4 linked regions of the Homo sapiens genome follow. The protein of the gene in region 1 interacts with the protein of each later gene in a pairwise test. Each region holds a gene or a part of one and is shown on either strand. Other genes may lie near its edges.

What was found.
Region 2: the proteins of CASP6 (region 1) and PLEKHG4 interact in binary tests that used the Homo sapiens proteins (3 or more experiments, as listed by UniProt).
Region 3: the proteins of CASP6 (region 1) and LYNX1 interact in binary tests that used the Homo sapiens proteins (3 or more experiments, as listed by UniProt).
Region 4: the proteins of CASP6 (region 1) and PPARA interact in binary tests that used the Homo sapiens proteins (3 or more experiments, as listed by UniProt).

The regions. Positions count from the first base shown.
Region 1 is NC_000004.12:109,693,428-109,700,449, forward strand, and holds part of CASP6 (caspase-6 isoform alpha precursor), read right to left. Parts: intron 4,916-7,022; coding exon 4,873-4,915; intron 4,342-4,872; coding exon 4,195-4,341; intron 3,060-4,194; coding exon 2,983-3,059; intron 1,274-2,982; coding exon 1,098-1,273; intron 1-1,097.
Region 2 is NC_000016.10:67,275,153-67,282,547, reverse strand, and holds the start of PLEKHG4 (puratrophin-1), read right to left. Parts: upstream 3,017-7,395; 5' UTR 2,922-3,016; exon of another isoform or gene 2,673-2,921; 5' UTR 2,504-2,672; coding exon 2,005-2,503; exon of another isoform or gene 1,838-2,004; coding exon 1,742-1,837; intron 1,667-1,741; coding exon 1,543-1,666; intron 1,458-1,542; coding exon 1,364-1,457; intron 982-1,363; coding exon 904-981; intron 825-903; coding exon 711-824; intron 540-710; coding exon 441-539; intron 348-440; coding exon 199-347; intron 46-198; coding exon 1-45. UniProt on the Homo sapiens protein: Possible role in intracellular signaling and cytoskeleton dynamics at the Golgi.
Region 3 is NC_000008.11:142,774,199-142,781,615, reverse strand, and holds the start of LYNX1 (ly-6/neurotoxin-like protein 1 precursor), read left to right. Parts: upstream 1-4,413; 5' UTR 4,414-4,510; intron 4,511-4,593; exon of another isoform or gene 4,594-4,702; intron 4,703-5,084; exon of another isoform or gene 5,085-5,172; intron 5,173-5,494; 5' UTR 5,495-5,658; coding exon 5,659-5,710; intron 5,711-5,921; coding exon 5,922-6,023; intron 6,024-6,252; coding exon 6,253-6,449; 3' UTR 6,450-7,417. Other genes in the region: LYNX1-SLURP2 protein precursor, read left to right, coding at 5,659-5,710, 5,922-6,023. UniProt on the Homo sapiens protein: Acts in different tissues through interaction to nicotinic acetylcholine receptors (nAChRs).
Region 4 is NC_000022.11:46,237,509-46,244,260, reverse strand, and holds the end of PPARA (peroxisome proliferator-activated receptor alpha), read right to left. Parts: 3' UTR 506-6,752; downstream 1-505. UniProt on the Homo sapiens protein: Ligand-activated transcription factor. Key regulator of lipid metabolism. Activated by the endogenous ligand 1-palmitoyl-2-oleoyl-sn-glycerol-3-phosphocholine (16:0/18:1-GPC). Activated by oleylethanolamide, a naturally occurring lipid that regulates satiety.

The sequences.
Region 1 (7,022 bases):
CTGTAATCCCAACACTCTGGGAGGCCAAGGCGGGCAGATCACCTGAGGTCAGGAGTTCAAGACCACACTAGCCAACATGGTGAAACCCCATCTCTATGAAAATACAAAAATTAGCCAGCCATGATGGCAGGTGCCTGTAATCCCAGCTACTCGGGAGGCTGAAGTGGGAGAATAATTGAACCTGGGGGCGGAGGTTGCAGTGAGCCGAGATTGCACCATTGCACTCCAGCCTGGGGGACAGAGCGAGACTCCATCTCAAAAAAAAAAAAAAAATCGTTAATGATGTGCCAAGTAATATTCATGCAAAAAAAAAAATTTTTTTTTTTTTTTAGACAGAGTCTCGCTCTGACGCCCAGGCTGGAGTGCAGTGGTATGCTCTCGGCTAACTACAGCCTCTGCCTCCCAGGTTCAAGCAATTCTCATGCCTCAGCTTCCCGAATGGCTGGGATTACAGGCACCTGCCACCATGCCCAGCTAATTTTTGTATTTTTAGTAGAGACAGGGTTTCACCATGTTTGCCAGGCTGGTCTTGAACTCCTCAGGTGATCTGCCTGCCTCGGCCTCCCAAAGTGCTGGGATTACAGGTGTGAGCCATCACGCCTGTAAAAAATACTTTTATCCCTAAAACCAATTTGGCAGCGGGGAAACAATCTTGGTTTAAGGGGCAATGTGAAAGGGATGAGACAGGATAAGACTAGAAGGCTTTATTTTTCCATTCTTTCCACTGGTTTATATGCTCTCCACCTCCCAAAGAAGCAAACCTAGTCTGATGAGGTTGCCTTGTGCGGCACTCTTCAATCAGCAGGTACGCTTTCCAATGGCTCTCCTTGGTATCAGGCTCGGACAGGGAGTAGCACATTGGTTACTTTGTGAGTCACTTCAAATCTCAATCCAAATGCTGTTATTTTGTAATATAGACAATGAGAGTGTCAAAGAATTATTACTAACAGCTCAAAGTGCAACTATGATTGGCCAGAATTCAAAAACGGCCTGTCCAATTACTGGAGAAAGTTACTTTCAAAACTGGCTTTTAGACCTTTATCACATGTTCAGAATGACAGACTTTATAATTAAGATGATAATGTACTCAGTCTTACCTGAATGATAAATATCTTGGGTTTTCCAACCAGGCTGTGACACTTGTCTCCTTTGAACAAGCCAGTTAATGTCTGAATTTCGATTTTAGCATCATATGCATAAATGTGATTGCCTTCGCCATGGCTCAGGAAGACACACACAAAGCAATCGGCATCTGCGTGGCTAACAGTTGACACTATAAAGGACCCAAAAGAGAATATAGAAATGAAAATATGATGCTTGTTATCTACACATAAAAATTCAGTTTATTAACACAAGAATAAAGTTACATCCACATGATTGGGGAGGAGGAAAATTTGTGGTTTTGTCTTTTTTGTTTTTTTGAGACAGAGTTTCACTCTTGGTGCCCAGGGCTGGAGTGCAGTGGCGCGATCTTGGCTCACTGCAACCTCCACCTCCCGGGTTCAAGCGATTCTCCTGCCTCAGCCTCCCAAGTAGCTGGGATTACAGATTTGAAACCATATCCAGCTAATTTTTGTATTTTTAGTAGAGACGGGGTTTTGCCATGTAGCCAGGCTAGTCTCGAACTCCTGACCTCAGGTGATCCACCTCGCCTCAGCCTCCCAAAGTGCTGGGATTACAGGCATGAGCCACCATGCCCGGCCTACTCTTTAATAAGTGTAAAATATCTGTGATGAAACAACTTAGTCTTTAATCAAACAATATACCGTACTGTATCTTATTTTTTTAAAAAAATCCAAATTTATTAAAGTTCAGAGTAATAGAGTTTGACCAAATTTCATTAGCCTTTCTAAAACACAGAATGATGTGGAAAACATAAAGGGATTACGATAGGGAATCTCACTTAAGATCCAAGTTATTTTGGCAATAAACTAAAAATTTCCTTGAATCAGCAGAGACCTTAGAGCAGAGTGGAAAGACCCAGAAACTGCTGCTCAACAGCTCCCCACGCATTGCTGCACTTTCACTATAGGAATACAGCACTTAGGGCCAGGCGCAGTGGCTCACGCCTGGAATCCCAGCATTTTGGGAGGCCGAGGCAGGTGGATCACTTGAGGCCAGTGTTCAAGACCAGCCTGGCCAACACGGTGAAACCCCATCTCTACTAAAAATACAAAAATTAGCTGGGCATGGGGGCGAGCTACCTGGGAAGCTGAGGCAGGAGAATTGCTTGAACCCAGGAGGTGGAGGCTGCAGTGAGCTGAGATCACACCACTGCACTCCAGCCTGGGGCGGACAGCGAGACTCCATCTCAAAAAAAAAAAAAAAAGATTATAGCACTTAGAGCTTCCAAAAGAGTACTCAAAGCCAGGTGCGGTGCCATGAGACTGATGTCCTCCAAAGCTTCTGAGCAAAGTAGAAAAGCTGGTAAAAGCAGCCAAAGTTAGAATGATGTGCAGTTTAAAGAAGAGCTCTGAAGAAAGTTTAAAGTAATTATGCAAATATAATGGTTGGCATGCAGCGATGATTATAATATAGGTTGTTATAATTAGAATACCTACCCCCTATTGACGCTGTGAGAATTAAAGGAGGTAATGTATGTAAACCAACACTATTTGGAAACCAGTGAGAAAATGAGGCATGAAAGGAGTCAATGAGAAAATGAGCCTGTTGACTGCCCAGCACCTGTAGTACTTGCATTTTAGGCTTTTACTGCCAATTGAAGGGGTCATTTCATTCATTTCTACAAGAGACTGTAACTAGTGGTATGCTAAATATAAACTTTAGAGGCATAATTATTTGCAAGGGTCTCTAAATGTGCTGGGTAACGGAAACACAGCAGCATACCCAAAACCTGTAACCTGTGCTAAATTAATACTTTTTTTGTCACACAAGTAATTACTTGTACCTGTCTTTACAGATAGGATAAAGGACTCGGTTTCATTAGAGGAAGATGAACTATATGATAGCAAAACTACCTACCCTCATGAATTTTGAGCAGTAGTTCTTCTGCTTTAAGATCATTAAAGCATTTCACTTCAAATCCTAGATCTGAAAACCTAGTGGTATATTAAATGAAATGTTAGCCTATAAACTTTTCAAAGTTGTCAAATACCCTTACTTTGGAAGAATCTATACACATTTTAACGACACATAAATTTGCTTTCTTTAGGAGAAAAGAAATGAAATATAACAATGGTGGTTTTCCCTTCATTCACCATGGTCGGAAAGGATTTAATCATAATGACAGCCGATTCAATTTAGAGTGTTGTTGTCTACTATGCAAATGTTAGTACAAATGCAAAAGCCTGTCAACATTTAATAGAACAGAGTAAGGAAAATAACTCAGGCAAGTTTTTTTTTTTTTTTTTTTTTTGAGACAGAGGCTCACTCTGTCGCCCAGGCTGGAGTGCAGTGGCTTGATCTTGGCTCACTGCAAGCTCCGCCTCCTGGCTTCATGCCATTCTCCTGCCTCAGCCTCCCGAGTAGCTGGGACTACAGGCTCCCACCACCACGCCCGGCTAATTTTTTGTATTTTTTAGGAGAGACAGGGTTTCACCATGTTAGCCAGGATGGTCTCAATCTCCTGACCTTATGATCCACCCGCCTCAGCCTCCCAAAGTGCCGGGATTACAGGAGTGAGCCACCATGCCCGGCCAACTCAGGCAAGTTCTTAAGGGAGGCTGCATCAAAGCAAGGCCCATGCTCCAACACTCTTGATCTGTTGTTACCTCATTAGTGTTGACAAGTTATGATAAGTAACTTTTCCCTACATCTAGAAGTCTGGAATTTTTTTAATTTTTAATTTTTTTTAACTTTTCATTTGGAAACATGGAAAAAAATTATTTTATTTTTTATTTTAGAGACAAGGTCTCACTCTGTTGCCCAGCCTGGAGTGCAGTGGCATGATCACAGCTCCGTGCAGCCTTGAACTCCTGGGATCAAGCAATCCTCCCCCTTCAGCCTCCAGAGTAGCTGGGACTACCGCCACCATGCCCAGCTAATTGATTTTTATTTTTTGTAGAGACCAGGTCTCACTCTGTTGCCCAGACTTGTCTCAAACTCCTTGCCTTAAGTGATCCTCCCACCTTGGCTTCCCAAAGTGCTGGGATTACCAGCATGAACCACCACACCTGGCCAAAAGTAATTTTATCACTTAACTGCCTCATCTTGATAGGTAGATAAAACTACTACCTGCGGGTAAGATTGTCTCTATCTGCGCAGGTGCCCCGCCTTTCTGGCAGTGTTAAGTGCCAAAAGAACCTCTCATGATTGAAGATTAAAGCAATTCCTCTCCTCCTGTGGTCCATTTTGTACTTTTCTGCCGGATCAAACATTTCTCTGTTAATGAAAAGTTGAAAAACAATCACTTCAAGTCATATTAAATAATGAGCCCCTCCAAGTTCTAGGTCAACATGTAGATAGAGATCTGAGCTTCCTCCTTGCCAGGCTGATGTTCCATGGGTGTGCTCCAGGAAAGGCCATGCTAATAAGGAAAGTCCTGAAATATCTCTCTGCCAATTGGTAAAGAGCAGCCATGTGCCATCCTGACACATCCCTAACCCTCTGCCTTGATGTCTTTCCCCTGGCCCCCAGGATCCAGCAACCAGGAATAACCACGAGGCTCAGAACCAAGTTCTAGCTCTAGGCTCATGCCATGCCAATTAATATGCATTCTGAACATCACTCCGGGTCCCTCGACAACCAGGGGCAGCACAACCTGCCTATCTACAAATGAGCTCCCCAAAGGCTAAAACTTGGCCTACTCAGTTTTACTTCCTAGCTCCCAGGACCCATTCTTGCTTTGATTTCTGTAGGCTGATCATGACCATCAAAGGAAGAGACCTTTATTAGAAAAGAGCACAGCTTTACCTTTTATAGAAGGCATCTGTTTCTGTCATGTTTTCTTCCCCACCTATTAAAAAAAGTTGATTTTTGTTAATTATTTTTTACTTATGGCAGTAAAATATAGTAGGAACTCCCATCCCCCTTCTGACTCCCAAACTCTTAAGACCCTTCTGTTTTGGTTAGTTTAAAAGCCAAAGTATGTGAAGAAAAGGAAATGAAGGGAAACTGCTTACTAATAAACAAACTATAACAGCTCTATGCTTTCTCACCCCCAACTTGACCTGCAAAATAACAATCTTATAAACAGAAATGGAGAAAATATTACACAAATGCATTCACTGCAAAATATGCCTAGAGTAACAGTTCTGTGATTACGGAGTTGAAATATGAAGTTGCTTTGTTATGCAGAAAATGTTTTTGCACATTTTCTGAAAAAGAATTAAGTCCTACAGGAAAACTGAAATATAGTTTGTGGTTAATGCTGGATTAGCAGTGGTGTAAGCCTGGAAGAGGTAGAAGTTTGGGTGGAGGAAGGGAAGGGCAAGGGCAAAGACTTGGACCTTGGATCTCCTGCATGACACATCTGCATTTCCAACCCTGTAAGGGGAGCCCTCTGCTCTCCATTCTCAACTGGACTCCCTACTCCCTGGACAGCCTTCCACTGAATTCCTCTCTACTCTCTAGAGCAGTGCTATGTCATGGAAGTGTCTGTGATGGTGGAATTGTTCCGTATTTGCACTGTCTCATAAGGTAGCCACTGGCCACATGTGTCTACTGAGCATTTAAATGCAGCTAATGCAACTGAGGAACTCGATTTTATTGTCAATTTAAATGAATTGGCCAGTGGCTTCTACACTGGACAGTGCAAAGTGTGGCATCTTCTACAATAAAGGCCCCATCCACTCATGCATCTGTTTTTACCTGATAGCTCAACAGCTTAGAGGGGAGACAGCAATGAATAAACTGAAATATTAGCAGTATAGCAAGATGCACCCTTCAGTTGAGGAAGAATGACCCTAAAGCATGGACTCTTACCCATCATCTCCTAGCCAAAAGGGTTGGTTCCCCTCTCCTTAGAGATCTCCCCATTACTAGCCCCCATCACCTGATTGATCTAACCTCACTTCTCCTCAAAAAAAATACAAGGTGGGGAATTCAGTTCAAGTCCCTTTTAGCCTATTCCTCCTGGAACTGCCCCAAGCAATGAGACCCAACTAAGACCCCACACTAAGGCATCCTCTGTCTGTACGCCCTAAGTCAGTTTTGCTCAACCTTGGGCATCAGAATTCCTGGTGTGCATGTTAAAATGCAGATTCCTGGATCCTAACTGAGGCAGAATCAGAATCTTGGAGGAAGGAGGTGACAGCTGCATTTTTCACAAAGTGATTTTTACACTAAGGTGTGAGAGCCAAAAGCAACCTCTCCAACTGGTCCTCCCCGCTGCATGGCAGATGAGAAAGCTGTTTAATCCGACCTTTGCCCTAGGTGAGCACAGTAACGAGGTACTTCCTACTCCACACACTGCTCTATGAAGACAGCACAGGGATTTCACTCTTCCCATTTTCAAAAGCTGTCGGAATCTACTGCCTTTTGATAACCTCACCTGCTTATCTTTTAACCAATTAGAGTATAAAGAAACAATAACTTCAAGAAAATTAAATCCATATGTCACAACCATCCTCCTCACATGCCAAAATTCTGCACAACTTGGAAAGCACTCATGTCTCAGTGTCCTCCTCGGTGGCAGCAGGCCAGCGGCTCACCTCCTGTGGCTTCTGCTCCATACTGACTGCTGAGCCGAAGGCGGCTCACAACCTAACTCATGGAAGCTGTGCCAAATGGCTGCTCAGCAAACTAACTCATATCCCTCAGGGTGAAAACACTGGAGATGTATTCTTGCTTGGGTCTTTAAAACTCTTGTTTCTCATATTGCCAAAGAAGTAGCTTCCCAGTTGTTAGCTGACACATTAAAATTAATAACTTAAGATGTGAGTTTGGGTTGTCTCAAATATGCCCTCACATTAGTCAAGACCTACAGGTTTAGGAATGGCTAACTAGTATTAAGTAGCTGCTCAAGAAAATCTGTTTAAAATGACGTTCTGGCCGGGCATAGTGGCAAGCCTATAGTCCCGGTTACCTGGAAGGCCAAGGCAGGAGGATCTCTTGAGCCCAAG
Region 2 (7,395 bases), on another chromosome or scaffold:
CCATCCACCCGGTCATATAGCTCGTCAGCCTTGTCCATTGCCGTCCTGGTGTAGGGTATACCATCTTAGACCCCCTGCCTTGCACCACTCCACCCTGTCCTGGCACCACAGTCCTACCAGGTTCTGAGCTAGCCAGATGAGTCCTGGCATAGAATATGGTGGGCTGGGGCAAGATCTGGGGGCCGGGCTTGCACTCACCTGTAGTCTGGGCTCAGGGTCACCTCTGGGACCTCTTGCTTCAGCCATGTCAGCTCCCGGCCCCCCTGGCATTGTAGCCATGCCAGCCATGGCGAGTCTAGCACCTGCTGCATCAGGACCTCTGTCTGCTGTAGCAGCTGACCGACCTCCTGTGATTGAGGGCAATAAGCTGTGGAGGTGGCCATGGGAGAGAAGGAGGGAGACAGGGAGCATTCATGGAGGGACTGGGAGGGGACACTCACCCCAGGCTCCATGGGCTGGGGCACAGCCTTCACACTTTCGATGGCCCCCTGGAGCAGGGCACAAGCTGCCTGGCAGTTCTGTAGTAGAGCTTCCAGCCGCTGTAAGCAGGGGCAGGCATGACCGGAGCAGCATGCAGTGTTGGTCCTGGGCTTCCTGGGTTCCAGGCCACTGCAGCCAGCTTTGTCTGGTTCAAGCCAGCCCCAGAGAGGCTCCTCCATGATCCCAAGTTGCCTATATGACTGCCCCCATGCCCCACCCAGTGTACTGACCCTTCGGAAATCCAGCCAGGCCTGGTGGCAGTAAGGCAGGCCTCCTCCTAGCGAAGTGGGCAGCCCCGCCGTTGGGATGTGGGTCAGCAGGCTCTGAGAAGGCAACTGCTCCAGCTACAGGAGAAGAAGGTGTTGTGACCCAGGCCTGGGGGGAGGCACCCCACCTCTACCCCTAGCCAACTGGGCTTAGTACCTGCAGCCCGGAAGGCACTTCCTTCAGCAGCGTGCTTCCCACTAGCAGCACCTGGTACACGGCCCCTGGGGCTGCTTCCTGCAAGGAACCTGAGCTCAGCACTATCCCCAACTCTACAGAAAAGGGCATGGTGGCTCACGCCTGTAATTGCGGCACTCTGGGAGGCGAGGCGGGAGGATCACCTGAGTTCAGGAGTTCGAGATCAGCCTGGGCAACACATGGTGAAACCCCCTCTCTACTAAAAAATACAAAAATCAGCTGGGCATGGTGGCAGGTGCCTGTAATCTCAGCTAATTGGGAGGCTGAGGCAGGAGGATCACTTGAATCGGGGAGATAGAGTTTGCAGTGAGCCAAGATTGCGCCACTGCACTCCAGCCTGGGCGACAAAGGCAAGACTCCGTCTCAAAAAAAAAAAAAAAGAAAAGAAAAGGAATGAGGGGAGCTACAATCCTGTACTCACTTGTAGTTGGCTGAGCCCAGAGAAGAGGGAAGAACTTGGAGCACAAATTCGGGCATCAACTAGCACTGTCAGTCCCAGTGCCTGTACTTCGGGCCTAAAGGGGTGAGCTTCAGTTCAGTACCTGACTCCCAGTCCTCACAGCTGGCTCAGGCTCAGTCTCCCAACCCCCTCCCTCAAACCTGGGGATGCTTCGCAGGTACAGCAGGAGGCGGATGAGTTCCTGGCTGCTGCACTCAGACTGAAGCCAGGCTGGGCTGTGGGCACACAGAAGCAGCACTGCCCGGCCTTGGACATCCCGAGTCCCTGTGGGGAGGAAGCAGTGAACTCCTGCCGTATTGGGCCACTCCACCTCCACCGCCTCTAGGCCCGCCTGGCTACCTGGCAAGGTGGCCATACCACTGGCCAGCAGCTCCCAACAGAGGTCTTGGGCCAGGAGGCAGTCAGCAGGCTTAGGGAGGCCGGATCCACTGGGGGCTTGGGAAGGGAAATGACTTGGGTCTGCCTTGGACCACCTATCCAGAGACCCCTACTTGGACCCGGGCTTCAGCCTGAGTAGGGTCAGAGACCTCCAAAGTCTTGACACTCATCTCTCCAGGCATCCCCATTCCCTTCCCAGACTTCCCTAGCCCAGCCTTCCTTACCTGCCTCCAGCAGCTTTGATATTTCTGATAAAGGGTCTCCAAGGCCCACAGGGTCGCTGTCCAATGCCCCAGGGCTCAAGCCAGATGGCATCGCCCTGCTTGGACCTGGGTCCCCTACCAACCCTACCCCTGGGGTGTCACTCTCACCCTGTGCCAAGCTGAGGTGGGAGGACATGGGGCATAGGAGACTCTCCACTCCAGAGGGGCCTGGCCCTTCTGACAGGACTGAGGAGCTTTCTACTGTGCCCCTCTGGGCATCCCCCGACTCATCTGCAGCTGGGGGTAACTGGAATTTCCTGGACAAGGGGCTGCCCTGTAGCTCCTCATCCTGGGTGGCCCCGGCTGGTGGTCTTGGAGGACCTGGGTCCTTAACGTGCATCTGGGAAGCAGGTTCCTCCTCTTCCCAGGCATCCCTGAAACTGCACACAGCAAATCTCCAGTCGGTGGCATGGCCCTGAGAGTCTGGGGACTCATCCCCATTCTCCAGGGGCCTTTCCATCACGCCCTCCTAAAGGTGGGCCTGCTCGGGGCCAGCGGGAGAGGGCTGGGTCTCAGTGTGAACCGCGCTGAAGACAGTCGAGTGGGACTCAGTGGGCAATGCAGGCGAAGGGCATGGGCCGCAGGAGGTGCCAGTCTTAGTGCCAGGGCACAGGAACTGCAATTCAGGCCTGGGAAGAGGGAATAACGTTAAGGGTGTCCCTCTGTCCAGGTCCCCCGTCGGACGCCCGTGGGCCTCTGCTCCGTGCGCGCCCACCCTCAGCGTCCTCACGGCCACGCTCTGCAGGCCCATGCCCGTGGGGGCGGCCCCGCCATGGCACCACGATGCCTCGGGTTCGCTCTCCTGCCGGCCCCCCCAGGCCCTGGCCTTGTTGCAGGGCCTACCGCGCGCCCCCCCGTCGCCCGCTGGCGACACTCACGCCCCCGGGCCGAGCCGCGGGGAACCGTGAAGTCGGACAGCCTTCGAACAGACGGCGGCCTCGACGGCCACTACAGCGCGGCCGCGCGGCGTCACGGGACACCGCCTCCTGGCCGCTGGGAAGGGAGGGCAGTGCCGCCGGGGCGCCGCGCAGCGCCGCGCCGCCCCCTGGAGGCCGGAGGACGGAGCCACAGCCCGAGCAGGTCTCGACGGGGCACAGCCCTGCCGGCGCGGAAGACAAGGTGCGGGCCCTGCAGCAACCCCCGCCCGCCGCCGTCCTCTCCGTGGGCCCGGACAGCCCGCCAGCCCCGCCCCGCCGCACCCCCGGGCCCCGCAGACCGCGCGCCTCACCCGCGGCGTCGCAGTGCGTGGGTTGGGGCAGCGACCAACGGTCGGCAGCTCCACCGTGCCCACTCCCCGGGCCTGGCGAGGACGCCGGAAGCGCTCTCCCGCCAGGAAGGCCGCGTGGGTGAGCGAGGGTGAGTGCGCGGGGGGCACCGCGGGACGGGGCGGGGCGGGGTCTCCCAGGGGCTTCCGCGGCTGAATGAGCCGACGGGAGGGGAAGGCCTTCTGTGTAGGGAAGCGGGGTGCTGCCTCGCCGCGGGCACCCAGAGACAGGTCGCATGATCCCACGTGGGATGGGGCTGCCATCCGGGTGGGAGTGAGACCAATGGGTGGAGCTGACCCAGGCCTGCCAGAGTCCACCAGATCCTCTACCCCTTTGCCATCCCTGGCACCCCCTTACCCCCTTCTCCACAAAGTCCGGTGCAGGAGGCTGGTGCTGAGGTGGGGTTCTGGAGCCAGAGCCCCCAGCCCAGGCCTGGCTTCTCCACTTACCTGCTGGGGGCGCTCCAGGAACTCTGCTCTTTGAGCCTCACCCTCCTCACCTGTAAAAATGGAAAGTCATTTTTCTCCTGGGGTTGCCGTGAGGACTGGGGAAGACTCCCTGTGTTATACGTTCACCCGCTGCCAGCACTCGGGCTGTGTTGGTGCCCTGCCCCCTCATTTCACCCGCAGTCAGGGAATCCTGAACTGATGAAAGCTACCCAAGTGGGTAGCTGTGCGATTTGAGGTCCCTTTAGGGCATGTGGGCCTGGCCCGACACTCCCCAGAATTTGTGGGAAGATTGTGGGAAGGTCAGCTCTGCGACCAGGAGAAGACCCTGAGCCCCACAGTGTGCCCAGGCCCATGGTCCCTGGGGAGAGGGGGCACCGGGTGCAACGGCTTCCCTGGCTCTAAGGCAGGCACCTCTTTCATGAACCTGGGGATTACAACAGGCACAGTGGGACCAACAGCAATCTCCCCACCCAGCCCAGCCCAGCCCCCAGAGTCCAGACTTTCAGGCAGCTACCGAGGAGCCTTCTTCATGAGCAGGTCTGGCTGCCAGAGGGGAGCCTTGGAGTTGTCCTGCTCCATCCCTAACTCCCAGCCAGACCTCTCTTCCCACCCTCCTGGCTTCAGGAAGCATCATCCAACCTTGGCTTCCTCCCCAGTTCTGTCCCAGGGCCACCCCCACTGAGTCACTGCCTTCTGCTCCCTCCCTCCCCTTCTGCTGCCCACCAGCACCCACCAGCCAAGTCCCCCAGGAGCCCTAAGAGCCGGGGGGGACCTGCTGGCGGGCACACATACCCCTGTGAATGCCAGAGGCAAAGAAGAGCCTCAAGCCACAGGCTATAGCTGACCTGGCACCCTGGGCACAGCAGGCAGATTCAGGGGAGGTACAGCCATACTGAGATAGAGGCAGGGCTGGGCCCTGGTTTCTCCACTCCACAGAGAATGTGCATTGTAGGCTTCATGGAAACAGAGACTGTATGTTATCCACTTCCGTACTTTCAGCATCCAGCACAGGGCCTGGCACAGAATAAATGCTTTGGGGCGCCTGACACTGATCACACTACCCCTGCCCTCCTGAGGCTCCACATCTATGTATCCCATGGAAACCAGAGTCACAAATGGAGACAGATTCAGAGACTCAGCCTGAAAGGAGACAGAAGAGGCCGAGAGCTACAGGTTGCATGGCCCAGGATGGCAAAGGTACAGATAGAAATGAGGACACACTGAGGCCTAGTGGGGAATATTGGGGAGCTGGGCCTGGAGCCAGCCAGGGGTGGCTGACCACAGCAGGCTTTGTGGGCTGAGCTTGCAGGACTGAGCAGTGACTCATGGGGCCCATCTCTGTGGCTCTCCTGGCAGCAGAATCAACTCACAGCAGCCTTTTCCACTGAGATCATAAAATGGGAATGGGCCTCCCTCCCCTGGCCCTTCCCCAACTCTCCCTCAGCCTCCCATTTCTTGCCAACATGACTCAATCAAAAATAAAATGGGCCGGGCACTGTGGCTTATGCCACAAAATCCCAGCACTTTGGGTGGCCAAGTCAGGCAGATCACCTGAGGTCGGGAGTTCCAGACTAGCTTGGCCAACATGGCAAAACCCCATCTCTACTAAAAATACAAAAACTAGCCAGATGTGGTGGCACATGCCTGTAATCCCAGCTACTTGAGAGGCTGAGGCAAGAGAATCACATGAACCTGGAAAGCAGGGGTTCCAGTGAGGCAAGATCACACCACTGCACTCCAGCCTGGGTGACAAAGCGAGACTCTGTCTCAAAAATAAATAAATAAATAAAAAGGAGGGGAGGGCTCTGGGCCTCACTGGGTCTAGTGACAACAGACCCACAGTCATTCACCTTGCACACCCCTCTTCAGTACTACCCCAAATACTGAGGGCAACAAATACCCCAGAACTTCCAGACCTCTCTTGCCTTTGGCCTAAATAAACTCCAAACTCCTTGGTATGACAGTCAAGGCCACTTAGAGGCATCACAGCCTTCCCATCTACCTCCCAGACTGGCCTGGAAAACAAATCTGATTACTAGTCTAGTCTCACACTGGCTCCTCTTCCTGAAGGCCCATGCCCATCTCCCCTAATCAAAATCCTTCCTCATTTGAGGCCTGGGTGCAGCATCTCCTTCACGAAGACTACCCCAGCCAAGTTCTCTCAGCTCAGGCCACCCTGCCCAGTCACATGGCAAGGACCCATGGATGAGCGCTTGACGCACTTGCTCTCCTGCATCCAAGTCACCTGCCTGCCTCCCTGTCAAACCCACCATGTTCATCTGCCCCCACCACTGCAACCTCCATCTCCTGGGCTCAAGTGATTCTCCTGCCTCAGCCTCCAGAGTAGCTGGGATTACAGGCATGCACCACCATGCCCAGCTAGTTTTTGTATTTTCAGTAGAGATGGAGTTTCAGCATGTTGGCCAGGCTGATCTCAAACTCCTGACCTCAAGGGATCCACCCGCCTTGGCCTACCAAAGTGCTGGGATTACAACCATGAGCCACCGCACCCGGCCCGACAAATAATGACATTTATGATCCCTTACCTTGAGCCAGGCCCTGGGTAGATTCTTCCCATTAAATTTTGTCATTTAATCCTGACAGCAGCCTTATGAAGTGAGTATGATTATCTCATTTGAGAGATGAGGACACTGAGGCTCAGAGAGAGCATGTAACACACCCAGAATGACACTTGTGAGTGACAGCTGGGGCTGTTGACTCTAAACTGTTGACTACGGCCGGGCGCAGTGGCTCATGCCTGTAATCCCAGCACTTTGGGAGGCCGAGGCGGGTGGATCACCTGAGGTCAGAAGTTCGAGACCAGCCTGGCCAACATAGCAAAACCCTGTCTCTACTAAAAATACAAAAAATTAGCCGGGCATGGTGGTGGGCACCTGTAATTCCAACTACTTGGGAGGCTGAAGCAGGAGAATTGCTTGAACCTGGGAGGCAGAGGTTATGAGCCAAGATCATACCATTGCACTCCAGCCTGAGTGACCTGACTGAGACTGTCTCAAAAAGAGTAAAAAATAAAAATTAAAAAAATAAACTGTTGACGACTAGTTAACTACGAGGCCTTATCACTGTGGCCTGTAAACAACCTAAGGGCAAAGCCCAAGTCACTCTTCCTTCTCATCACACCTTCCCTGCGCATAATGCAGAAAAAGTAAAGGTAAGTTGGCTAAAAGTATAACCTTCCAAGTGTGTCAAAAGTCCTTCAGATCCAGACAGCCAGAAAGTAGGTTAGTTATTACCTAGGGCTGAGGAGGGCCAGGGATGAGGACTGACTGCTAATGAGTACAGGGTTTTTTGGGGGATGATGAAAATGTTCTAAACTTAGATTGTGGTAAGGGCTGCACAACCCTATGGGTATATTCAAAACACTGAACTGTACACTTAAAATGGGTGAATTTTTATGGTATGTGACTTATATCTCAAATATATCTCAGCTACTCAGGAAGGCTGAGGTGGGAGAATCAGGAGAATAGCTTGAACCCAGAAGGCAGCGGTTGCAGTGAGCCGAGATTGCACCATTGCACTCCAGCCTGGGCAACAAGAGCGAAACTCCATCTCAAAAAAAAGAAAAAAAAAAAAAAAGAAATCCCTAGATAAGAGCAGTCCCAAATCCAATTCCCCTG
Region 3 (7,417 bases), on another chromosome or scaffold:
CATGGGGTGCATGGCTGACTCTCCTGGCCCATCACCGGATGCAATTTTCTCTATGCCTTAAAAATGGAAATGCTAAAAGCAGTCAAAGCACAATGTCCAGACAGAGGGCAGCTGTCAGGGAGACTGTGCAAAAGCAACTGACCAGGTCCTCTGAAAAGGGATCCTCCCTCCACCTGCTCGGAACTTCTGCTCTCCTCACCGTCCAGTCGGGCCTGAGCTCCCACCCGGCCCCCTCTGGCCAGCTGCGCTGTCCCCACCTACAAGGTTGCAGGCCCTGTGTGGGGCTGATGACGCCTGACAGCATCTTGGCTGAAAGGCCAGGTGGGAGAAAGAAAGGAGCATTATTCAGTCAGATCAGGGGGGCCCAAGAGCCTCCCTTAACGCCCAGTCTCGACAGCCAGATCCCACGGAGGGCTGGAGGGGCAGCCCCAGCCGCCCACTCCACTGGCCAGCCCCCAACTCAGAGGCAGCTAGCTTTGGTTTGCAAGAGGTCCTTTCTCTGGTCCTGCCATGGACAAGCCGGACTGGGGAGGGTTGTTGAGGTCCTCCTCCTGGAGGGGCATTCTCAAACATTGCTCTCATTGATTTTTCTCTATCTTCTTTTTCTACCTCACTTTTTTTTTTTTTTTTTTTTGCTTTTATTTTTGCTATTTTCTTCATTTTGCTTACCTTGGGTTTGATTTGCTCTTTTTGTTCTGGTTTCCGAGGGTGAAAGTTTAGGTGGTTTTTTTTGGAGAACTTCTTTCTCTTCCAAAAGAAGTTTTAGCTCTTTTTTTTCTAAAAGAAGCATTAGTGCAAAATTTCCCTCCAGGGCCCACTTCAGCTGCATCCTTTGACTTTGATGAATTGTGTTTGCATTTTCATTCAGTTGGAAATATTTTCTGATTTCCTTTTTGGTTTCTCCTTTGACCTATAAGTTGTTTAGAAATATGTTATTACTCAGTTTCTAAATATTTGATGATCTTTTAGATATATTTCTGTTATTGATTTCTAATTTAGCTCCATTGTAGTCCAAGCAAATAATCTGCATGATTTTAATCCGTATAAATTTACTGAGATTTGTTCTATGGCCCAGAATACAGTCTGCCTTGGAGGACATTATTGGTAAATAAAGGTGTGTTCCCCTTCTGTGAGGTGGAGTGTCCTACAAACATCAAGTTGGTCATGTTGACTGGTAATGTGATCCACGTCTTCATCCTTACAGACTTTTTGTCTATTTTTTATCAGTTCTCGAAAGAGGAGTGTTGAAATCTCTGTTATTGTGGATTTTCTTTTTCTCCTTTCAGTTCTATCAGATGTTGTTTGTTTTGCTTTGTGTATTTTGAAGCTTAATTGTTAGGTGCATACATATTTAGAACTGCTGAGTCCTCTTCATGAACTGATCAATTTATCATTTGGTAATGTCCCTCTTTTTAAATTTTTTTTCTTTCTTTCTAGTACAGATAGTGTTTTGCTGTTTTGCCCTGGCTGGTCTCAAACTCCTGGCCTCAAGCAATCCTCCCACCTCAGCCTCCCAAAGTGCTGGGATTGCAGATGAGAGCCACTACACCTGGCCAGTAATGCTCCTCTTTATTTCTGATTATAGTCTTTGCTTTAAACCTACTTTGATATTGACGTAGTCATGTCTGTGTTCTTTTAATTGGTGTTAGCATAGTATATCTCTCTCCATCTTTTTACTTTTATCTTATTTGTGTTTTTACATGTCTGGTGAGTTTCCCACTGACAGCATATACTTGGCTGTTTCTATTTTTATCCAATCTGACAACCTCTGTTTTTAATTGAGATGTTTTTGTTTGTTTTTGAGGCAGAGTCTCACTCACTCTGTCGCTCAGGCTGGAGTGCAGTGGCACCATCTCAGCTTACTGCAACCTCTGCCTCCCAGGTTCAAGCAATTCTCCTGCCTCAGCCTCCCAAGTAGCTGGGATTACAGGCACCCACCGCCATGCCCAGCTAATTTTTGTATTTTTTAGTAGAGAGGGAGTTTCACCATGTTGGCCAGGCTGGTCTGGAACTCCTGACTTCAAGTGATCCACCTTCCTCAGCCTTTCAAAGTGTTGGGATTACAGGTTAGGATTACAGGTGTGAGCCACCGTGCTCAGCCTGATTGAAGTGTTTAGATGACATAGTGTCATTATTGCTGTGGCTGGGTTTAAATATATGTCATCTTGCTATTTGTTTTCTATTTGTCTCATTGTTTTTTCCTTTCTCCTCTTCTGCAGTCTCTGTAACATGTGCTTTTATAAATAAATAATTCTGTATCATCACTTTTGTTGATTTATTAACTACAGTGCTTTGACTTTTGCTTTTTTCTTTGTCTTTTTTTAGTGACACTTTAGCGTCTTAGCATACACCTTTGACTTACTAGTCTACCTCCAAGAAATAGTAGGCCACTTCACATAGAGTAGAATAAATCTACAACAGTGAACTTCCATTGTCCCTCTCCTGGTCTATTTGTATTACTATTTTTTTTTAAATTTATTTGACACAGCGTCTTGCTCTATCACCCAGGCTTCAGTGCAGTAGCGTGATCACAGCTCACTGCAACCTCCACCTCCTGGGTTCAAGTGATTCTCCCACCTCAGCCTCCTGGGTGCAACCTCAGGTGTGCACCACCACACCCAGCTAATTTTTTGGTATTTTTTTTTTTTTAGAGATGAGGTCTCTCTACGTTGCCCAGCCAAGCCTGGTCTTGAACTCCTGGGCTCAAGCGATCCACTCGCCTCAGCCTCCCAAAGTGCTGGGATTACAGGCGTGAGCCGCGGTGCCCAGCCTGCACTACTATTATCATACAATTTACTTCTACATTTGCTATAAATTCCTTAATACATTGTTATTATTTTTGCTTTAGGTAATCAACTATCTTTTAACTTGATTCAAAAATAAGAAAAAAATTACCTTCTATTTCCTATTTCTGGTGTCATTTATTCCTTTGTGTAGATCCGTATTTCTGCCTGAAGAACTTCCTTTAACATAAAGGTCCCCAACCCCTGGGTCACAGACCGGTTAGGAACCACGCCACACAGCAGGAGGCGAGCGCTGGCGGGCGGGCAAGGGAAGTTTCATCCGTATTAATTCATCGTGGTCTGAGGCTGAAGACCGCGACATACTCTGGTTCTGACCTATGCGTTCCTTCCACGCCCCTTATCCCACCAGAGTGTGAGCTCCATGGGGTGGGAATATTCTGGAACGTCTGCTGGTTTTATTCTTTGCCTTCTCCCCAACTAGGACCTGGCACAGGAGGGTGCGCATTACCTCTCGGCAAACAGAACAACTAACTGGCCTAGTTTGCTGGGGACCGAAGGATTTCCTGGAACCGGAGCCCGCTTGCCCAGCAGGCATGGTGTATTCTGTACCTCAGGCCCGCAAAAATGTTTTAAAGAAAAAAATGAGCTTTAGGGTAGAAGAAAAGGTTTTATTTTTCTTTCTCACATTGGAAAAAATGAAAACTTTCGGACCCATGAAATTTTATTACATTTTGCCAAAAACAGAACCAATAACATAAGTATTCAAAGTTATGTAAAGATAATTATTTAATATGAACATTATGATGGTGAGAGGGACCACGGAGCAAGGGGCTGCCTTGCAGGCCTGCCTTCCAGCTTTGCTACAGGGACCAGAAGCGGGAGCTGAGCGCAGGGGAGGCAGGCGGAGGCCATGGGCAGCGAGGCGGGTGCGCCAAAGGGCGCCAGTTCCGGAGCTGCTGGGCCTGGGCTGCAGGAGGGCGGAGCTGGGGCCGCAAGGCTGGTGCCGGCCGACAAACGACGCGGCGCGGGCGAGTGGGCGGAGGCGGCTGCGGGGAAGGCTGGGCTGCCGCGGGACGCGGTGAAGATAGCCTGCGGAGTGTCCGGGCTGAACACGTGAGTCTGAGGGTCGCCAGGGAATCACTGCGTGGCTGCCTCTGTGTCGGAGATCCAGATGCCTGGACTGGCCTCGGGGTCCCAGCGCTTGCCCGGCGAGCCGGCGGTCCGGGGACGGGTCCGGGCCGAGGCCTGCGGTGAACTCGGCTCGGCGGGTGCCCAGGAGGCGGGTCCGGGGCGGGGCCTGCGGTGAACTCGGCTCGGCGGGTGCCCAGGAGGCGGGTCCGGGGCGGGGCCTGCGGTGAACTCGGCTCGGCGGGTGCCCAGGAGGCGGGTCCGGGGCGGGGCCTGCGGTGAACTCGGCTCGGCGGGTGCCCAGGAGGCGGGGCAGGGGCGGGGCCTGCAGTGAGCGCGGCTTGGTGAGTAGCCCAGGAGGCGGGTCCGGGGCGGGGCCTGCGGTGAGCTCGGCTCGGGGGGTTGCTCAGGAGGTGGGGCCGGGGCAGGCCTGGGGCGGGGCCTGCGGTGAGCTCGCGCTGGGCGGGCTGTTCCGGGGGCGGGACTGGGCTGGGCCTGCGGTGAGCATCAGGCGATGCGGCACGGGTGCTGCGGGACACACAGACACGCCTACGATTAGACTCAGGCAGGCACCTACCGGCGAGCGGCCGCGGGTGACTCCCAGGCGCGGCGGTACCTCACGGTGGTGAAGGTCACAGGTGAGGTCACCCTGATAGTCCCGCTCGCGCCGAGAGCCCTCCCCTCGACCTGGGACCGCAGTGTTTGGGGCGGGGCTCTCCGTGAGGGGGTTGGGAAGCTCGAAGCCGCAGGCCTGACTCTGGCCTTTGGCATCCTGGGGTTGGCCTGGGCAAATGTGTCGTGAGAGACGGATTTGTTGTTCTCGGGAAGGCGTAAGTTTAATTTAGTCCTCCAGGACGGAGACCGAGGGCCGAGTATCCCGGCAGGGGTAGGAGAGCCGTAATCCAACCCCCACCTCCCCACTGTAAACCTCTTTCCAGAGAGGGCATTCCCGTTCCAAACACCAGACCCAGCCGGGGAAATGCTTCTTCTTGTCTGGCCCAAGTGCCCTCCTGGGAGGGGCTCAAAATGCATTCCCCCCAAGCTGGGCACAGCTCATCCCTGCTGGGGAGCTTCTGCAGTGGCCGAGGACTCAGACAACCCTAACCAGGGCTCTGGAGGTCTTCTGGAAGAAGGAACCCCAAGTAGGGACACCCCAGGAGCAGAGAGGAGGGGAACAGCGAGAAGAGACCCAGCTTTTGGGCCCAGTCCTGCCATGGCCAGCCATCCGGCCCCCAGGGCCCTGCTTGGGATGGGGCTGCAGACCACCTCCCATGGGACCTCTGCACCAACCATCCCCTGGGTAAAATCCTTGTTTAGGCCTGGTATTTAAGGCCCCTCTGCCCATCCCTACTCCTTCTCTAGCACTGCCCCTCATCCTCCCCCCATCTCTCCTCCATCCAGCGCTACAGGCTGTTTTGAGCTTTTGCAGGTGCTGGTCTCTGATTGAAATGTCCTGATCTCTTCTCCCTTCTTGTCCCATCCCAAGTGTCTCCTCCTCCAGGAAACCTTCCCTGACACCCACTGAGTTAGGTGGCCCCTCTGCCCACCATCATCCCTGCCCAGGCCCCCATGGGTCCTTCAGGCCCAGTACTGACCACCTGTCTTTGCCACCTGCTGTGCAGGGTTGCAGCACTCCCAGTAGACCAGGAGCTCCGGGAGGCAGGGCCGGCCCCACGTCCTCTGCGCACCACCCTGAGTTGGATCCTCTGTGCGCCACCCCTGAGTTGGATCCAGGGCTAGCTGCTGTTGACCTCCCCACTCCCACGCTGCCCTCCTGCCTGCAGCCATGACGCCCCTGCTCACCCTGATCCTGGTGGTCCTCATGGGCTTACCTCTGGGTAAGATGGACAAAGGACAGAGGGATGGGCAGACCCACTTTGAGGGCAGATGGGCTGACAGTAGGGAAGGAGGCTAGAATTCCCAGCGACAACCCCTCCTTCTAGCCCCCTGCCCCGGGGAAGGTGACGGGCTGGGGGCCTGATGGGCTGGAGGAGGGGCCTCTCATGTTCTGTGACCCCCGTTCCCTTCCCGCCCATCTGCCAACCCCAGCCCAGGCCTTGGACTGCCACGTGTGTGCCTACAACGGAGACAACTGCTTCAACCCCATGCGCTGCCCGGCTATGGTTGCCTACTGCATGACCACGCGCACCTGTGAGTCTGGGGGCCCTGCGTGGCCCTGCCTGGGGAGCACGAAGGGGAGGTTCTGCCCTGCCCCTGAGCATGCGGGGGTCCTGAGGAAGGAGGCTCTCCTGTTCCCGGATCCTGTCTGGGAGCTCCAGGCTGAGGGGCCCTGCCCTGATGGCTGTGGATGCTGGGGTGGGGCCAGCTGGGTCTCCTGCCCCTCTTAGCGGAGCTGGCTCACCGCCCCGCCCCTCTGCAGACTACACCCCCACCAGGATGAAGGTCAGTAAGTCCTGCGTGCCCCGCTGCTTCGAGACTGTGTATGATGGCTACTCCAAGCACGCGTCCACCACCTCCTGCTGCCAGTACGACCTCTGCAACGGCACCGGCCTTGCCACCCCGGCCACCCTGGCCCTGGCCCCCATCCTCCTGGCCACCCTCTGGGGTCTCCTCTAAAGCCCCCGAGGCAGACCCACTCAAGAACAAAGCTCTCGAGACACACTGCTACACCCTCGCACCCAGCTCACCCTGCCTCACCCTCCACACTCCCTGCGACCTCCTCAGCCATGCCCAGGGTCAGGACTGTGGGCAAGAAGACACCCGACCTCCCCCAACCACCACACGACCTCACTTCGAGGCCTTGACCTTTCGATGCTGTGTGGGATCCCAAAAGTGTCCGGCTTTGATGGGCTGATCAGCCCCTCGCCTGTCCAGGGCTATTTATGGGGAGGGGCCCAGTCAGGCAGGGAGCACTGAGCAGATGGGAGCTGTGGCCAAGCCCACCTTCTGGGAAGCCCTAGGAGAGGCCCCTGCCTCAGTCTGCCCCTGGTGTGCTGGGGCAGGGGGAAGACAAGGAATGCCCGCAGGTGGGGTGGTGGGGAGACTCTTAGGAGGAAAGGCTCCTCCAGGCCTAGTCACGCTTCCTACTGAGGCCAGGAGCTGCCAGGACCGGTACGGGATCAGGGCTGTGGGAGGAGGGCCTTTGGCACCGGCCCCTGTGCTAGGAAGTCTGCCAGGCCCGAGTTGGAGCCACCCCCTGCAGGGGAGGGGGCGGCTCTGCCTCAGCAGGCCCCAGGGCCCCCGAAGTCACAGAAGCTTTTTCGGGTCCAGCAAGGGGTGTGTGTCCTCTCAGTCAAACCCCTTGACGTTTCCCACCCCCTCACGGGGAGGGCACCAGGCCTGAAGCTGGCAGGAGCTAGGGCCATGCTATATTTGGTGGGTCCTGGACGCTGACCCGGCCAGCGCTATTCTGGGCAGGGAGGGAAAGGGGCAGAGCAGGTGGTCCCCCGAGTCCTGGTCCCCAACCACAGCAGGACCCAGCCGAGCAAGGCAAAAGACGCAGGACTGGGGGATGCGCGCACAGGCTGGGGGTTGGGAGCAGCCTGGGGCCGGCGCGGGCCTGGGCGTGGGAAGGCGGAGCATGC
Region 4 (6,752 bases), on another chromosome or scaffold:
CTCGCACTCAGCCCTGGGTGCCTGTGAAGCCTGGCCCCACTGCCTGCCGGGGGTTCCTGCAGCACCCCCCTACTCCAGGCTCCCCATCTCCCTGAAGCTTCCAGGGTAGCAGCTGGTGGGACACTGATCTGTGAGCTCTGGAATGTCTGCTTAGAATTCTGAGAGGCAGGAACTGCTCTGTCTTTGTAACTACTCAAGGCCAACTGTCACATGAAGGAATGAATAAAGAGTTTTTACTGACTTGTGCACTGATGGACTTTAAGATGCTCACTGCTTTAAAAGTTCCCGTTGTATGTGACTTCAGACGAAAGGATGTCGTATTCCGGAGCCAGATTGTCCTTGATCCATTCTGTATGTTGAAGGACACAAAAGGGACTGTGCAGGTGGAGACAGCCTCCATGAGGGGCGCAGGGACTGTTCTGGCGGAGGGCGGACCCCACAGCTGGGGACTTGGTTCTTTTAGACCAAACAGTCCATCTCGCAGCATCACTCAAAACTCACCAAAAAATTTTAAAAAATAGTTTATTTTTTAAAACCATTAAGGCAAAACTGTACCCTGAAATTAACTCTGTACATTCATCAGTCTTACAGTAGGACATCCCAAACACAGAAGTTCCCATATATTCAGGATATAAATCAATACATGTGGTCAGTTCAGTCTCCTAATAGGAAAACGAAGACCCAAGATTTTTTTTTAAAATTAAGGTTATTTTATAGCCATTTTCTAATTGCCTGGAACCAATCAGTTCATGTGACTAGAAAAATTACTTTCGCTCTTCTCTGCACATCCTTGATTCCGGAGGTCCTGGATGCCCGCTCCCCCCACCAGGAGAGAGGTATGAAGTTGGAGAGAGGATGCTGGGGCCTGTGTGGCAGTTCCTACTTTGGAACTGCACCTTTTTAGCACAAATAAGAAGCTGTAAGCCCCAAAATACTGAGAGTATAAGGCACTCACTAGTAGAGCACATGTGGAGAGTCTGGGCCCAGTCCTTGCTCTGGGATCTGCCTCATTCTCGCGTGTGTTTCTGTCAACCCTCTCTCTTAGGGTTTTAGCCTAATGGCATTATGAATCCCAGAGGGTGTAACCAATATGCACCAAGAAGTTTTGCCAAGTTATTGGAAACAAGGTATGGGGAGACTCACGGGGTCTGTGGTTTCTGCTTTCTGCTTTGGGTTGGGCCACCTGGAGGATGCCAGAGAACCGGCACGTGCAAAGAATTTCCATCAGGACATTTCCAATTGCCAGCGTTCTTTGGTAATAACCCATAGGTAACAGTTCCCTGAAGAGCAGACAGCTATTTACTAAACAAGAATAGTGAAGGGTCTTTAGCGAAACACTGTTGTATGAAATCGGTGGCCTCTAATACGGAGTCTAAGGCCTCGCTGGTGGAAGTGACTAGAGATAGCCTCTCTTGTGCTCTGTGCATATACAGTGTGGTAAAGGGAACAGATTTCCACATTGAAAGTAAATTCTGCATGGCTCAGGAGAAATGAAGAGCTGTGTGTGTGTGTGTGTGTGTGTGTGTGTGCACGCACACGTGTACGCAGTGTATTTTAGATGTTTGATTTCAGCTTCCTTTGTGTTTCCAATAGGGTCAAGAGCCAGGCTTTTAAGAATATGAGTCAATTAACACTGATTTCAAAAGAATCCAAATGTTTCTTATTAAATGAGTGATTGTAAGTTAGTAAAATATTTGTATTAGGATATTTTTCAAAAAGTCAAATCACAGTATTTAAGATATAGCTATTAACGTAGTTCTTTTTACCACACAATGTAGAAAAAAGTGATATTTAACATGAACACTGTAACTTTACCAAAAAGAGTACTACATGGTCTTCATCTTTTGTGAGGTACATGAGAAAAGGAACTGACTGTGCCTTAAAAAAAGTGAAGTTGCCAAAAGTGAGTGATTTTATTGTGAAATGATCGGCCAGTCACTCGTCTCCGGGGCCTGAAGGCTGACCCTCTCTGACTTGAGGCACAGCCAAGGCCTGGGGGTCCGGGGAAGGTGCCCGACTGTGTCCCAGGGCTGCGGCATGCCCCCCCACGCCCGGTCACCACTTTTCCTAGGAGCCAGGCTGCGTGGACTGGGGGCCTGTTTGTGCACCAGTTTGCACGGCACTTTATCAATTCATTAAATGAATGGATTTTGGATGCTGGATGTGTGGGCAGAAGAGGGGCAAGAGAAGAGGTGGCAGGTAGACTCCCTCCTCCTCACATTTGACCCAACTAGCAAACTTAAAAAAAATAAAATAAAATAAAAGCTGACCCCCCTCCCCAGGTCTTAGTTTGCTATCTCTGATGTAAAAATCAATTATTTTTTCTCTCTTTTTTTTTTTTTTTTTTCAAATAATCCATCTAACAGCCATGAGACCACTCAAGTATTTGAGGTCATCAGCTGCGTCCATCAAGACATGATATTGAACATGGACACCATCTGGTCTGTTGGTCTGTTTTTGTTGGCAAAGGACTCCAAAAGGATGCAGTTGTATGTGTTTCAGCTGAACCACATACCATAGCTCCTCTCCCCTCACAAAAGGGTTTCTCTGGGGGGAGAAAAGTAACTGATTATACCTCTCATGTCTCAAACTGAAATTCTGAGAAGCAAATGGTCAGTTGAGGGCCCCATTCCAGATCTGCCGGGACGTCCTCAGATGTCCAGAGCTGGCAAAAGGTGGAGCAGGCAGCAGCCTTGGGCACCAGCCTGTCTCTTTCTGTTCTGATAAGGCCACACACATGGCTTTTTGTGATAAGCTTCCAGCCCATGCCACTGAAATAACGTTTAAGAACCTGCTGCATTTCACAGAAATAGCGTAATGGAAATCATTATGTAATTAAACAAAGCATGAAGCTCATTATCTTTTTCTTTTTAACAAAACCTTCAATTTCACATTTTAGTGTACACTGTGGTTTCCAGAGAAATATATGGATCTCCTATATTCTGAGTCAGACCAAATTTATTGCCTTTATTCTTACCCTAGTCTATGGGGTCAATAACCGTTTTCCTGAATGCTGTCAAAATGGTGCCTGAAAATATCTAAATCCCAGCAAAAACCTAGGCCTCAACTTTGGAACCCAGTCATAGATCTTTCTAGGCAGAAGGCCTCTCAGGGGAGTACATGCCCTGGGCAAAGGCCATGGACTCGGAAGCAGGAAGGTCACGGGATGATTTAATGGCATCGAATAATCCTTTGGTGAGATGGCCTTTGTTGCCCTCAGCACAGTCGAGGCAGGTTAATCATTTATTTGCCACAACCCTTCCTTGCTCTGTAAAGCTGCAGCACAACTGGGTGGTCCGTATAGCCTTTTCTGCCACAGATGTTTGTGGACATTTCACTTCCAGACTGTGACGTCTGAAGATGGGCTTGAATGACAGCAGCCATCATCGCTGCCATTAGGGAGGTGCACACAGCCCCCTTTGCTCGATGCAAATATTTGGTTGGTAAGAAATTCCAGTGCAGCTAAACAAGTCAGCTTGGACTGAGTTAAGAAAAGCTGGGCCACTTTTAACATGAGAAGAGCAGATACTTCCCCATGCTTGGCAATGCCAATGCCGTAAAAATGGGAAGTGTTGAGACAAACCTCCTGTGGACGAGAGGTTCCCGTGGACATTTTTAACAATCATGAGCCTTCAGGTGGTGGCATCAGTCTTCATGGGTGACTTCTATGGACAGCATAATTTTCTTGCCTCTCCTGAATCTATACTACTTTTCTGAATGTGAAAGAAGGTCTAAAAAGTAATCCCTCGGGATCCCTGCATCAGGCCAACCATGCTAACTGCAGAGGGTGAGGCTGGCAGTCCAGGAGATGGGAGCTGAGGACAAGGCTGCAGGCCCCTGGGTCACCTATCCTTGCACTCACCAGGTGCAAGAGTCTAGAAACAACAGGGAGGCTGCAGGAGGTGGAGAAAGTGCACCGTGCCTGGGGACCAGCGGCTAGCAACACCCAGCAGGCCCTACATCTGGAGGCTGGTGTTTTCATTTTAAAATGGAGGCTGATTTGCTGTTACCCCCTCAAACAGCTGAGGAGACCACAGGAACCTGCTTTGAAAGCTGCCCAGAGCCATGGCATCCATAGGTGGTGAGCTGTGGGCATGTTCTCCTGGTGGCATCTGCATTTTGAAAGGCCACACTGTTGAAGAGGTACCAGCTGTTGAAGGTGGCCAGCTTTCCCCAGGCCCCAGGAAGCCCCCCACCAAAGGCCAGGCTGTCGGTCAAGCCAGTCTTAGCTGGGTGCATTGGGCTTGCTGTGTTGAAGCAATGAATCTATTTTAAAACTGGAGTTCAGTGAGACATTTCAAAGACAGGTGTGGCCACTGGATCAGGACCAAAAAACCCTCCATCATGTATGCGGCTGGTAAGTAGCAGATGTGCGCAGAGATACAGTGGTTTGAAAATGGGAGTTTGAGGTGGGAAGTGCTTGGAACCAAACACAGAGAGGCCCAGGTGCAAGTTCAGAGGAGACAGACCTTAGGAAGTCGCGGTTTCATCAGGGCTTGCTTTGGTGCATCTGTTTCCATCCGCATCTGGTAGGGTCTCTCTGAGGAAGTGGCTTCCTCGTGGCCAGCAGGAAGAGGTGAAGAGGAGAGGGGGTGCTGGGGGCGGTGCGGGGAGGGGGGTTTGTCACTGCAGGCCGGGACCATCGGCCGCTTCTCCTAAGCCCAAGACGTGCCCAATGTCAGTTTCACCAAATTGGGGTAGCACCTTTTGCACGTATCTTCAAGGCTCCCTTTACACAACCGAAGTTCCTTCCAGACGTCATACGAGATGCTGCTCCCCTGTGTGTGGGCAGGCTCAGGTGTGTGCACTCAAGGAGTCTCCATCCCACCTGCCCTAACTACAGAGGCCACAGGCTGTGCGCCTCAGCTCTAGCATGGCCTTTTGCAGGGCCTGCTGAGGTATTTGTTACATGGTCCATTGCGGGGAAGTGGTGGCTAAGTTGTTGACTTCTCACGGTATAGCAAATCTCTCATTTGTACCTTGAGCTCTTGCTCGGCTCTGGGAGGCTGCCCTGTCCCTGGAACCTCCAGACAACGCTCCAGGAAGGCTGTTTCCCTGGGGGTCTAAAATGGCCCAGTGTAAGAAACGTATCAGCGCAGCAGAAGGGTGCCTTGTCTGCTCTCTAAATGCGAAACAAAACAAAACACAGCTCTTTAAAACAGGGACAGCTCTCCTGGGCATCCTTGAATGCTGAGTTCTGGGTTTCTGCCCCACTTCACGTCCATTATGTTCGTATAGCAAACACACCCGTTAGGAAGATGCTTTATACTCTTCTCATCGGAGCTGGAGGAAGGGTCAAGCGGAAACAGGCAAGCGAGGTGGGAAGAAAGGCACCAGCAGCCGTCAGCCCGTGCTCCCAGTCCCGCTCCTGCCGCTGTAACTGGAAGCATCTTGTTTTGACAATTCATCCAAACGGCCTTAGGCCCTGCACAGTTCTCCGGTCTCTGGAAGTGTGGTGGGGACGGAATCCAACATGTGGGACACCCAGCTGGAAGTGCCAGGAGGTGGGAGAGGAGGGATGCGCCGCCAGGCTCCCCTGGACAATGGAGAGGCCTGCGTCTGCTCCCGAGCCACAGCCAGCTGGCACACAAGAGGCACGTCTGGGAGGAGTCCCTCGCCGTGCCTTCACCCTGGTCAGCACGGTAGACCAAGGCTGTTAGGTCTCTGAGGACTTTGGCACTTTTTGCTATTAAAAGTTGAGAAAATGAAAAACCGTGTTTAAACAATGACTTGTTGAAGAGTGGGTAAATTTGGCGACTTCCTACATTCGCTGCCAGAGGGAGCGGGTGCCACACATGTGCTCCGACACTCCTGGAATCTGTCCTGACATCTCTTTTGTTCTTTTGGCTGATGTCTGTTGAAACCCAGCAAGCAAGAAATGCACTCTGTTAATAGTTCCCATTTGAACTGGGGCATAATCAGCCTATATTTGAGTATTGATGCCCTGAGAAATCTATGATTAGGTGACCCAAAATATTCCAGCATTGAGTGGCAATTAGTGGTTTTGTTATTTAAAGAAATAGGAATGCCTGATTTCCTTCCCTATCAACACAAGAGACCAATGTCGAGTGACTTTCAGCCTGAGGTCACGGGTGTCTCCATTCTGGCTTCACCAGAGATGTCCCTGGAAGTCTTGCTGGGCCTTAAGGAAACCAAAATGCTCACCATCGCTGCTGAGTGTCCCGGGAGCTAACATCGAACTTGCCAGTCAGCTCACTGTTACTGCTGAAAGCCTGAGACGGGGAGCTATTTTAAACAGGTTTTATGAAAATGTAAACAGAACAATGACTTCTCTGAAAACCATGAGGCTCACTTTCCTGGACCACATCTCCTTGAATGGCACAGGGTACATCAGAGCGAGCAGCTGCAGGGTCGCTGGGGACAACACAGGCTTGGCATTGGGCTCCAGCCCCTGGATCTTGTTGACACAGGGGCTTCTCATTTTAGGAAATAATACTGAAACGGATGCACCATGACAGACACTCAAAGGCTAGCTTCTTTCTGAATTAGGATGGCCACTTGGCTGGTGGCATATATGGAAACACTTTTATTTGCTTTTGGTTCCTAAGACACTTGGGCAGACTGCCCGCCGCTGCTGCTGCCATTGCTGGCCAACAGCCCCTTTGATTGCATCTTTTTTTTTTTTTTTTGCCGGGGTGGGAGAGGGTGGAATCTAACTCTGTCACCCAGGCTGGAATGCAGTGGTGAGATCACAGCTCACTGCAGCCTCGACCTCCTGGGTTCAAGCAATC